Linked DNA regions of Homo sapiens: regions 1 and 2 are each linked to region 3. Evidence: fine-mapped expression QTL. A gene starts in region 3. Each other region holds a variant in brackets. All regions are shown on one strand. Distances are from middle to middle.

What was found. PIP is the estimated chance that this variant, and not a neighbour inherited with it, causes the effect.
Region 1: its variant is the best candidate, but not a certain one, in a credible set for the expression of TMEM185B in whole blood (INTERVAL, PIP 0.60).
Region 2: its variant is the best candidate, but not a certain one, in a credible set for the expression of TMEM185B in whole blood (TOPMed, PIP 0.57).

What each region holds. Positions count from the first base shown.
Region 1 is chr2:120,284,055-120,288,296 of GRCh38, forward strand. It overlaps RALB (RAS like proto-oncogene B), which reads left to right. Exons shown (of 5, transcript NM_002881.3): 3 at 1,820-2,028. Among named protein-coding and RNA genes, the nearest start is that of RALB, 33 kb to the left of the region's middle. RefSeq lists enhancers at 1-92, 3,486-3,655. The variant G/A (reference allele first, on the strand shown) is at 1,773.
Region 2 is chr2:119,657,409-119,661,650 of GRCh38, forward strand. It overlaps a transcript of CFAP221 not described here. Among named protein-coding and RNA genes, the nearest start is that of TMEM177, 20 kb to the right of the region's middle. The variant G/A (reference allele first, on the strand shown) is at 2,053.
Region 3 is chr2:120,221,418-120,225,659 of GRCh38, forward strand. TMEM185B (transmembrane protein 185B) reads right to left here and starts at 1,983. Exons shown (of 1, transcript NM_024121.3): 1 at 1-1,983. The coding sequence starts at 1,559. The coding sequence ends at 507. RefSeq lists silencers at 1,582-1,781, 1,932-2,301, 2,021-2,181 and an enhancer at 2,276-2,939.

The sequences.
Region 1 (4,242 bases), 63 kb after region 3:
AGAGATTTTCAGGGGACAGTCGTGTGTTGGATTTTTTTGGCGTGTATTTTTCTTTTTGGAAAGGAGTTAAAAGAAGGACACTTGAAAGCACAGGCAAGTTTTCACATCTCTATTTGGAGATAATTTATTAGTACACGTTGAAGAGAACCTAATACTAAACATGTCTTAATATTTTTATTTTTGAGTAGCTGTTAACTGACAATACAAGGCTCTTTTTAACAGTCTTCCTCAAATAACCTTTAATTCACTTGGACATTTTCAATTCCATTTTTAAGTTAAAAAAATTTTAAATCACAGCCTTATTAAGATGTAATGCACATATGAAATTCGCTCTTTTTAAAGTGTACAATTTTTTTTTTTTGAGATGTAGTTTTTCTCTTGTTGCCTAGGCTGGAGTGCAATGGCACGATCTTGGTTCACTGCAAGCGCCACTTCCCAGGTTCAAGTGATTCTCCTGCCTCAGCCTCCTGAGTAGCTGGGATTACAGGTGTGCACCACCATACCTGGCTAATCTTTTGTATTTTTAGTAGAGATGGGTTTTCACCATGTTAGCCAGGCTGGTCTCGAACTCCTGACCTCAGGTGATCTGCCTGCCCCGGCCTAAAGTGTACAATTTAATAGGTTTTTTTTGTATATTCATACAGATGTGCAACCATCACCATTATCTAATTTTAGATCACTTTCATCACTCCAAAAAAAACCAACCTACGTATTAGTAGTCATTCCCCGTTATTGCTTCCCCGTCCCACCCCTGGCCTCTGGCAACTGCTTTCTGCTTCTATGGATTTGCCTATTCTGGACATTTCATATAGATGGAATCATACAATATGTGGCCTTTATGTCTAACTTCTTTCACTCAGCATCATGTTTTGAAAGTTGTTCCATGTTGCAGCGTGCGTTGGTACTACTTCATTCCTTTCTCAAAAACCCACACCACTGAAAGCCTCTTGGTACACTGTGTTAGTTCATTCTCTTGATGCTGTGAAGAAATACCCAAGACTGGGTAGTTTATAAAGAAAAGAGGTGTATAGCCTCTTTTCTTCCACAGGGCTGGGGAGGCCTCAGGAAACTTACAATCATGGCAGAAGGGGGAGCAAACATGTCCTTCACAAGGCGCCAGGAAGAAGTGCAGAGCGAAGTGGGGAAAAGCCCCTTATGAAACCATCAGGTCCTGTGAGAACGAACTCACTATCACAAGAACAGCATAGGGGTACCGCCCCCATGATCTCATTGTCTCCCATAAGGTCACTTCCCCAACACATTGGGATGATAATTCGGATTACAACCTAAATGATGAGATTTGGGTGGGGATGCAGAACCAGACCATATCATACATCTTGCCAAATTACTTTTCAGATGAATTTTATACTTCCGTTATGAATAAGAACTCCAGTTTTTTGATATACCTAATGTTAAATGACGAGTTAATGGGTGCAGCACACCAACATGACACGTGTATACATGTGTAACAAACCTGCACATTGTGCATATGTACCCTAAAACTTAAAGTATAATTAAAAAAGAATTCCAGTTTCTCACCCTTGCAGGTGTTTGCATTAAAATTTTATACTGACAATAATATTGCCAAGTGTTCTGCTCTGTGCCTGGTTTCCTCATCTGTAAATTGGGATATCTGCCTGTATTGTTTAAAAACAAAAAATGGCAAAACAGAGCTATAAAGAACAGAAGTGTTACGTAAAATGTTGCTTCTGTAGTGTCCTGTTCATAGTGTGAAGTGCCCATATGTGGAATTTTGTTTTTTGGCAGATTTT[G/A]TTCCCCTTAAGACTTTGTTAATTACCGATAATGTTTATTTCCTCAGTTTGTAGAAGACTATGAACCTACCAAAGCTGACAGTTATAGAAAGAAAGTGGTTCTTGATGGGGAAGAAGTTCAGATAGATATTCTGGACACCGCTGGGCAAGAGGACTACGCAGCCATTCGAGATAACTACTTTCGGAGTGGGGAAGGGTTTCTTCTTGTGTTCTCAATCACAGAACATGAATCCTTTACAGCAACTGCCGAATTCAGGTATGTCTGAAATGAAATAGCAGAAGCCCCCAGGAAGCTTTTTGCCTTTTCTCATATGTCTTAGGCCTATGAAGAATTTGGGGCTGAGCATACTAGGAGAGGGCTGAGCTTGTTCTCAGGAATAATTCTGTCTAAAGAATCTTCTGGGGCTTTCTGAATCTTGGCACATTATAGACTATGATGATTATAATCTCTTTGGGCTTTCCTGATCTGTGATTTCTGAATAAAATAATTTTAAGAGTCTTACTGTCCCCGAAAACAATGAAGCTATTCCATATAATCAAGAACATATAATTTTGTTCCTATAAATACTCAGAGATTTTCATTGATAAATTAACCATCTATCCTTTAAATAATGTTACTAAAAAAAGTAGCAGGTTTAGTCTGTGTTGAAGGTTATGAAACAATGACTGGAAAGTGAAAGATGGGAGTCAAAATGACCATTTGCTGCTACTTAAGGACTTTCAGCACAGTGGAGGGACGAGAACGCGGCTTTAGAGTCAGGAGACCTGGTTTGAATCCCTGCCTTGCCGCTCACTGACCATGGGCAAGTTTACTTAGTGTCAGGATTTTGTTTCTTTCTCTGGAAATGCACTTGTGAGTTGAGAAATGAAATGAAAGGATGTATTAGACTGTGAATTTCATGTGGGCAAGAACCTGGCTACCCTCCATTGTCCCCTGTCACAGTGTAGACACATGGTGCTTCCATAGTGAGTAGAATATCCATTGTTATTTATTTTAAAATATGGCAACTATTCTCCATGAAGGTGTTAGAGAAGAAAGAAAAAGAAAATATAGCAGTGAAAAAAATACCTTCAGTTCATTTTGTTATAAAGAAATAGCCTTTTGGGCATAATTCTTATGCTCTATAAATGTCTCTTTACCCCATGCCCTTCCCTTTCTCCTACATAATTGAGTTTTAAAAAATCTGTTCTTCTTATAAACATATCTATCTAGATGACTTTTTAAGAAGCAGATCTAGAGTTTAGTAGGGAACTGAAGAGAAAAAACCCAAAAATCAAATCAGTTTTTTTCATTCTTCAGCAAGTTCTGGTCTGACAGTAAGGTGGTCAACCAGAGGTGAAAAGGAGAAAGCTAGCTATCCTTCCAGGACTTGGATGGAAGCATCACTGAGCCAGGGAGGCCTCGGGTGAGCACAGGTCACCCAGCAGGGCTAGTGAAAGATAATAGGGAGGTGCCTCAGTGATGCTTCATAGCTCCAGGCTTCAGAGTCGAAGACCTACTTTTCTGGAAGCAGAGTGCGTGTGGTGCAGTGACTAGTTAAGTGACTATGACTCATTATGAGAAGTTCTGTTAATTTTTAGACATTTCAGACCTTCCTAAGGGCTGCTCTGTTTGAATGTAGCCCATGTATTTATAATTGTTTGCATCTGCGTAGTCCTGTTTTTAATGCCTCATAGAGGGTAAAACAGGACAGATGCACACACTCTCTTCTTTTCTTCCCTGTCCCGAGCCTTTTGATTTCCTGTTGTTCTGTGACTTACTTAGAAGGGAAGTGGGCAGGAGAGTTCTCTGCAGAGGATATGGAGAAATACAGGTATTTCAAGTGCTCCTTGTCCTCTCCTCAGTCACCACACATGCACAGATAGCACTCGGGCGTTCTCACAGAGTTGGAGCAGGGCTCCCCTCAATGTGGAAAAGGGTTTTGGTTGTTAGGTGGAAAGAGAGATCCTTAGAAGAAAAAGGACAGATGAATACCTAAAACCAGAAAGAAGGGGAAGTTGACCTCTGCGTAGGTTTCTCATGTTGTTGGGAACAGAAGAATGCAGGTCAATTATCTGAGCCCTGTGGCTAAACTCAAGTCACTTTACTTCATGTCTGTTAGCAGTTTTAAAACAGCATTTGTGTACTATCTTCCAAATAGAAAGGCCCCAATATAAAATGACATGTGAATATGCTGTCTTCCTTGAAACTTTTTCTGGAAAATATTTTATGAACTAAGATAAGTTCTGTCATAAGAGACCAGAACTTGGTACTCCCATTTTTGGATCGATATGTTTATCAATGAGGTAATTTTGTGTGCCCCTGCAAGACTAATGAGCCAGAAAGCTATCAGTTTTTATTGTTCATAGTTTATAATGATCACATGACTTCAAATGTATCATGTTCTTTGACCCCAGTTCAAATGTAGGCTATAACAAGGCTACACAAAGCCAATTTCAAGCATCTTTTCATCTTTTTTAGTTTGTCTTA
Region 2 (4,242 bases), 560 kb before region 3:
ATGTGCAGAGTATACCTGGCATAAAACAAGAGCTCAAACATGAAAGTTGCCCTTCACTCACAGGGCAGGACATAAGCATCAGTCATTTTTTAAAAACTTTTTATTTAGAAATATTTTTAAACTAAAGGAAAACTTGCAAAATAGTACAGAAAGTTGCCATCTATATTTTACTCAGATTCCTCTAACATTAACATCTCCTGCGTGACAATGATCAGAAACAGGAAATTACAATCGGTACAGCTTTATTGAGTAATGTCCGTTCAGTGTTCCAGGAGTCCACACTGCGATTGGTCAACGTGTCCCCTTCTTCTCCTCATCTGTGACAGTCCCTCAGTCTTTTCTCATCATTTGTGACCTTGACACCTTTGACAGTTGTTTTGTAGACTGGCCTTCAGAGTGTGTGTGTGTCTAATGCTTTCCCAAGACTAGGGTGAGGTTATGCATTTTTGCAAGAATTCCACAGAAGCGTTATGTCCTTCTTGGTGCATCTTATCAAGGGGCTTGTGATGTCGATATGTCTTCTTACTGGTGATGTTTACCTTGGTTGCTTGGCTAAAGTGGTGTCTGCCAAGTTTCTCCACTGGGACATTAATATAATCATGGGGAGAGACTTTGAGATTATGCAAACATCCTGTTTCTCCTCAGCTTTTTTCCCACTCTGTATCTACGTATCTTTATATGAATTCCCACTTTAGCATCCATTGGTGAGTGGGTCTTGTCTGCCACAACCATTACCATGATGTCCACTTAATGATAATGTCCATGAGCTGTCCCTCACCGTCATTTAGTTACTTCTTTATTCAGTAGATTTTTATATCAGCATGGAATCATGGACATTTATTTTATTATATAGGTTATAATCCAACACTACCGTTGTTTATTTTGTTCTCAAATTGTTCCAGCTCTGGCCATTGGGAGCCCCTCAGGTTACACCTCTGACCTTTCAGTGCATCCTCGACCTTTCCTAAGCACATCTTTACCTTCCAGCATCACAGTATATTCCAGACTCATCTGTATCTTTCCCACGTCAGCCCTGGAATCAACCATTTCTCCAAGGAGCCCTGGTTCCTTTCACTGGAGAATGGCATTTAGAAATCAAGACCTGCTACAGCAACTGGTACTTGTTGCTACTGTGGTCCAATTGCTTCCGAGCCCTCTCAGTGGCCAGAGCTAGAAAATACAAGTATTTATACTGAGCCCCCCTCAACACGCACACACACACACACACACACACACATTTTCATCTCTCTATCTTTATGTCTTGTATATATATCAAAAAACATGAATTATGGCCAGGCGTGGTGGCTCACGCCTGTAATGCTAGCACTTTGGAAGGCCAAGGTGAGCAGATCGCTTGAGCCTAGGAGTTTGAGACCAGCCTGGGCAACATGGCAAAACCTCATCTCTACTAAAAATACAAAAATACAGAAAATTTAGCCAGGCATGGTGGCAAACACCTGTAGTCCCAGCTACCTGGGAGGCTGAGGTGGAAAGATCACCTGAGCCCAGGAAGTCGAGGCTGCAGTGAGCCATGATCACACCACTGCACTCCAGCCCTGGTGACAGAATGAGAGCCTGTCTCAAAAAAAAAAAAGAAAAAGAAAAAAAAAAAAACGCATTGATACTGATGCTTCCAATTCCAGTCCAACACCTGGGGTTTGTTTTGGCCTTCCTCCTTTCCTTAATTGTAACTTCTTTCCCCTACAGTGAGCAGCTTAGCTCCCATCATCTACGATGTATTACCTTATGTGTTGCTTGGTGTATCCGTAAAGTAACATCCCATTTGCTAACACATCTCCTTGCGAGAAACACATTTACTAACTACATTACAGTATTGGTGTCCTTTTTACTTTGGCTTTATAGAGTCCAGTTAAAATACTGGTTCCCGAATTGCCTGGGCTGGTTCTGTTGCTTTCTTTGTCTCCTACTCCCATCAGTGTGGTTGTGTTTTCATATGAGTTAGGTTCATGTGTTACTGTTTGTATTTCATCTTGGGTTCCCCTACACGCTAGTTGGGTTTAATTATTTATTTCAGGGTACGTGGAACATTAC[G/A]ATGGCTCTAAATACAAAGATACTCAGAGAAGTATCATTCCTTCTCATTCCCAATCCATCTCCATTCCGCCATCTTGCTGCCCCATGGGTACCCACCCTTCCCACTGTGGGCAACCATCTCTTTAGTTTCTGGTTTATCCTTCTTGTGGGTAATTTTTAAGGCCCCCAAGGGCTCCCATGTGCTCCTCTGCATTCCTCCTCCACATTAACCAGTCACTGGCCTGACCTACTAGCAGTTTCCGAAGCATAACCCACTCGTCCGCACCCCTGGGCCTCTGCACATGCTATTCCCTATGACCTCACCACCTTCTTGCTTAGTGTCCTTCTCACCTAAGGTTTCCCCAGGCCTCTGCCCCTTGGCCCCTGTACTGACCTCTGAGGCAAGGCCTACCTAGTCCCTGCTTCTGTGGAGAGGAAGGGCCCAGGCAATGTTTGTTCAGGGAATTGCTTCCCTCAGCATCCACGCTTAATACCATGCTGTGCACATCACTTCGTTCACCAACATCCAACCAGCAGCTACTGAATCCCTGGCTACTTCCACCTACCCAATCTCCCTTTCTTGCTGGGTGCCCCACATTGCATTGTTGGTGTGAACTTTCTGGCTCCAGACTTTGAGCCTGTTCCCATGTCAGTGCATGTACTTATGTCCATTTCAGTTTCCCCACCTATAAACAAGAGCCAATTTCTCTTATTTCCCTGCTCTCCCCAGGTTGAAAAGGTCGTGGCCCCTTGGAAAGATTGTATTGACTGTGTTGGGGATCTGGTGCCACCTGGTGGTTGCCACAAGAAAGGCCTCTCCTGACTCCCAAGTTGTAACCCGTTTCCACCAAATCGACTTCCAAATAATATTTATCAGATCATCATCTGTGCTTTTCTTCCTTGTTTCAGACCACTTTTAGGTGGAAAAGGCAAAGAAGGCTTATATGTATTTTCTTCCATAATGAGTCCATCAGAAAAAGTTCCTTCGGTGAAATCGTTGACCACGTGATGTTTGGGGACTCCCTATGGGATCAATCATCCGGGTTCCTTAGAGACCATGGCCATAATCAGGGGCTGGCCAAGGGAATGAGTATCCCTGGGTTCAACAGCTGTTTCTGAAGACCTGCCAGTTCCCCTGTCTTGCATTAACTCGGGTTATCATGCCATTCTCCTTCTAAGGCCAAAGATACCTGTAACCGAAGAATCGGGATACTTCACTGCAGTCACTTCATTTTTTTTTCTTTTGAGGCAGAGTCTTGCTCTGTCACCTAGGCTGGAGTGCAGTGGCACAATCTCGGCTCACTGCAACCTCTGCCTCCCAGGTTCCAGCGATTCTCCTGCCTCAGCCTCTCAAGTAGCTGGGATTACAGGGACCCGCCACCACGCCCGGCTAATTTTTCTATTTTTAGTACAGATGGGGTTTCACCATATTGGCCAGGCTTGTCTCAAACTCCTGACTTCAAGTGATCCACCCGCCTCAGCCTCTCAAAGTGCTGGGATTACAGGCATGAGCCACCATGCCTGGCCAAGCAGCTTCATTTTAGAAGTGATTATTATTGCTTTCCTTTCTAGAACTTCCGGTTTGTGAAGTATTTTCTCAATGATCCTCAAAACATTCTAAGACATAAAGTAGCTGTTATTAGTGTGATTTTATGCAGAAACTCAGGCCCAGAAAGCTTCATGGACTTACCCAATTAGCAGAAGAGCCAGGTTTGGGCAGGATCTTGGTTTCCTGCAAAGGTTTCGTTGCCTAGCCAGGCGTGGTGGTGTGTACCTGTAGTCCCAGCTACCTGGGGGGCTGGGGTGGGAGGCTCACCTGAGCCCAGGTAGTCAAGGCTGCAGTGAGCCATGATCCTGGTACCCAGTCCACTCTTCTCTCTACTACATGGTAATCAATGAAAATATTACAGATTTACATTTTTTAACTTTTTATTTAAACTTTCAGCTTTGGAGTCTCTAAGAGTAAAGATATTATGTGATGATATTTGTATTTTACTTAATTGCTTATTCTTTAAAACATGTAATATAGAAAAAAATACAAATTAGCAAATGTCCTTTGCTCTAAAGAAATCAGCTGGCAAGTTTGCCCCACCCAGCAGCAGCCATGTCTTACTCATTTCTGTATCCCCAGCATGCAGCAAGATGTTTGGCACAATGCAGGCTCTCAATAAATGTTTTTTGAGGCTGGGTATGGTGGCTCACACCTGTAGT
Region 3 (4,242 bases):
TAAAGACCAGTATCAGCAAAGCCCAAGGAGAGAGTATTTTAACAGTAGGAACACTAAAAATATCAACTATGAGGTTTATAAACAAGTGGTGGGAAAGAGAACTTTTTACATTTGCTATTGTTATGACAGGCACAATCTGAAATACAATTTTAGATTAGCAGTGTATAAAAATACTTTTTAAACAATAGTTTTGATAGGTACAGTAGCATTTAAACAAACAGCTGTGTGGTTATTCCTTTTGAGGACCTACTAAAACAATTCGACTTACTGCCCCCAGCTACACCTGAAAGTGCGAACCTGGAAAGCAAGTCTCTTACCCAGGTACACATCACACACACCCACATACTGAAACCACCTCCATCTATGATGCATACTGATGAGGCGGTGATCTCAAACACGGCGTGAGACGAGTGTTTGAAGCCTGTTTCCATTTCCAGGTTTGGGATGAATGAACAAGAGGCGAAGGCCAAGTGGAGTCTGTGTGTGCCTGGGTCCTCTCTAGGAGTTTAATCTGGCATATCAATATTTAACTTGGGAGGGGGGGGAACGTATTTCCCAGGGCTCTGGGTTATAACTACTCTGGCCTTCTTTCCAAATATTGGAGCAATTTTCGGAGCTTCTGGAACTGATGTTTCTTCAGCATCTTCACTATCTTCGTGATGGAGATCATATGAAATGTTCCCATATTCTCTTAAAAATGGGAAAATTTCAAGCAGAAACTGACAGAAGTCTCTGCGAATGCCAAACCACCAATGATTGCCCCCCTTTCGCCTAAATGTTGTGGCCATTAAAGTTAGTAAGGAAAGCCAAAGGGGGACAAATATGGAGACGTAGGAGAATGTATTGTGGCCATCCAATCTGTGAACCAGCAGGACCTCAAAAGTGAGCAGAGGCACGACAATCGTTATCCAACTGATAGCCATGGTCACGTGTGTTCTCCGCTGCTCGGCAACCACATCCAGGGACCGCAGGAACAGGAGGGACCAGACGATGTAATAGAGGACGACCAGGCAAAGGAACGACATGAGGATCCACAGGGGCACAAACACCACCAGCCACGGCCAGTGAATAATCCTGTCCAGCTTTAGGGCGATGAAGATGAACTGCAGGATGTTGACCGAGCACAGGATCTCCAGCTCCAGCGACCTATCGTGTCGAAAGCCCCAGACGCAGGCAGCCACGGACACGGGGGACACGAAGAAGAGAGGCATGAAGACCAGCAGCCAGAAGTGGGTGCCCCTCTCCACCCTGTCGCAGACCAGGACTTCGAACATGAGCAGCAGCAGGTGGATGCCCACAGCGATCAGCATGGCTTTGAACTCCACACAGGCCTCTCCCTCGGTGCGGTAGCGAGGGTTGCGGGCCCAAACGCCCGCGCCCACGGAGGCGCCTGCGACGACTAGAAGCTTCCACAGCCATATGGGGGCAAAGACGGCCCAGTAGCTCCATTGGATGATGCCGTCCAGGCGGAGGGGCAGCAGCACCGAGAAGAGCAGCAGGCAGGTGTAGATGAGAAACTTACTGGGGTTGAAGTCCTGGAACAGGCCCCTGGGGTTCATGGCGGAGGCCGCCGCTTGCCTGCCCGGGCCTGCTCCCTCGCGACGCTCGGCGCTCGCGTCTCCGCGGCTTCTCCGGCCGCCGCCTCCCGGGCCCCGCCCAAGCCGGCTCCGCGTGGACGAATGCCGGGACGACCAGGAGGAGGTTCGGAGCGGCGAAGCGGAGAGGCCGGAACACGTGCACGCGCGGTCACGTGGCCCGGCCGGAAGCGCGCTGGGGTGTGGCGCGCGCGGGCACGGGCGGCGCGGCGGTTACAAACTGGGCGCTGCCTCGGTCCCGCCGCCGCCCGCGTTCACTCCGTACCCATCAAGAAGGCACCTAATGCGTGTGGGGCCCGAAGGGGCCTGGCGCGCTGCTGACTCCCCAAGCGGCCCGCGACCTTGGGCGGACGCTTCCAGGCGACTCCGGGAACATGGAGGCGGGAGTGAGCTCACATCCTCCCTGCCGGCCGGGGCGGGCCCTGCGGGGGCGGGGCCGGGTGGAGAGGGCGGGGCCTGGGCGTTGGCACCCTACCCATCTCTGCCGGGATCCTCGCCTCCCCGCGCTCGCCGCGGCTTCCCGGGAACCCGCCCGGGGCTAGAGCGCCCGCGGTGAGGCTCCAGCACCCCGCGCGCGCGAGCAGAGGCGGTGGCCGGGCTAGTGCGGGAGTTTGCGAGCGAGGGAGCGGGTGCCGGTAACTGAACGGATGCAAGGCGATGTGCATGAGCGCAGACCTGTGGGGGCCGGCGGCGGGTGTATCCCTGGCTCAAAGGAAAAGGCCCGCGCGTAGACTCAGGGCACGAGGTGGGGGGGCCTTACCTGGGATGAAGACTCGCGGGGCAGAACTCCGCCTGGTGGAGCAACGGACGTTTCTCAGGCTGCCTGCGAAGTGGCTGTGCAGAGATCCCAGGCGGCAGCGGCGCTCTTGTACCTGTCCCTCTCACTCCAGAGTGGAAGGTGCTGGTGAGGGTGTTAGACCCCACTCGGGAGGAAACTGGATCCAGACCAGGGTTGGGGGTTGCTTTCTGCCCCAGGTCACCCGGCAGGTTAACAGAGAATCGCGTCGCAGATACAGGGCTCCTACCTTCAAGTGTCTAGTCCTCATTTTGACTTATTTGGCCCTGTCTCTGTGTTATTCTCGCAAAACCATGTTTTCCTTTTCCTTTGGAAAAGGGTACTGGACCAGAGGTCAAGAGATTTGGGTTCTTGTCCAGGCCGTGCCACCCATCAGCTGAGAAACCTAGGCAAATTCACCTCTTTCTCTCTGGGCCTCAGTTTCCTGGTCTATGAAGTTGGGGGACAGACCTGGGTGGTGTCTAAGGGCAAGGCTGCAGCGGGTCTGTGATTTGGAGCACCCCTTTCGCCCTCTGGCCATCTGGGCAGACCCTGGAGGATTTCTGTCTTCCCCGCTGTCCCACTGCTCAGCAGAGCCCTGGCTGCCCTCACCAGTCTCTCCTAGTCCTCTTTTCCTGAAGTGGCTGTGGGATGTTGTCACGCAGGTCCTGGGCTCTGAAGTGGGACAGGCCATCAGAGGAACGCATGGCCTGTCAGGGCCTCCGCGGAGTGGCCCTCCCGCACCCTCACAGCACTGCCCCAGGCGGGCATGAGCAGGGTGTCCAGGTGTCGGGCGGACAGTCCCAGCCCCCGAGGCGCTCTCCACAACTTCACTTCAGCCACAGGCAATCTGTGGCCCTGGGGAAGGGAGTCCAGCTGAGTGAGCTTCACCAGTCCTCAGGCTCAGCCCTTAAGGCTGACTTCATAGATGTGTCTTCAGGGCCTCTTGTTTCTGGAGAGCCTTATCTCCCTCCATTCCTCCCCTAAACAGAGTTGCTCCAATCTGTCTGTTTTACACATTGGTCTTTTTTGTACTCTTTTCTCCCAAGAAGGATTTGTCAACTAAAAATTTGTAAAAGTGGAAAACCCCCTCACCAATCCAACCTCTTCATCTGTGAAATGGGCTTGGAAAAGCACACAGGATTGTTTTGAGGATTAGATGAATCAATACATGGAACTTTGCACTTTGCATTTAGAGACCTGCAAGTAATTGATTTGACCCCACTAGGAAAGCAGAGCCCGTGGAGGGGAGGCGCTGCCAGGAGCGCCCCCACCCTCCGGGAGCTGGTGGCAGAGTCAGGTCCTCTGGACCCTGCGAGAACAGTCAGAAGTCCTTCCCAATCACCTATGTAGTCAGATGAACTCAGGGCCTCTGCTGCCATCTTTGTGGCAAAGACAGAGCTCGGAGCTTATTTTCCCACCTTGAGCTCCTCATTCAGAACAAGTGCACCCTCTCCATCCAAGAAGCGGGTATCAAGGTGTCCTGTCACAGTGCAACAGTGGCTCTGCTGCACAGCTCCTGAGGGAGGGCAGACCCAGCTTCCAGGCTTGTGCCACAGGGTGAGGGATGCTGTCTGCCATCTGTCCCCAGCTGGCTTCCTTTGGCCTGCAGGCCTTGACCCCTCCCCCATCATGCCCTGGGCATCAGACACCCCTCCTTCACTGTTTTCCCTGATGCGGCCAGTCTCTCAGACACCCGCCTTTGTCTTTTATTTACCTGTAAAGCTAACATGGATTGTTTGCTATGTGCCAGGTGCTGGCGGCATAGCAGTCCCCAAGGCTGGTACACAAACCAAAGTGTGAATTCATTCACTTACAGGTGGTGTGTGTGGATGTGGTGTTCCAGGCCACCGGCACGGGCTGCTATCCCCC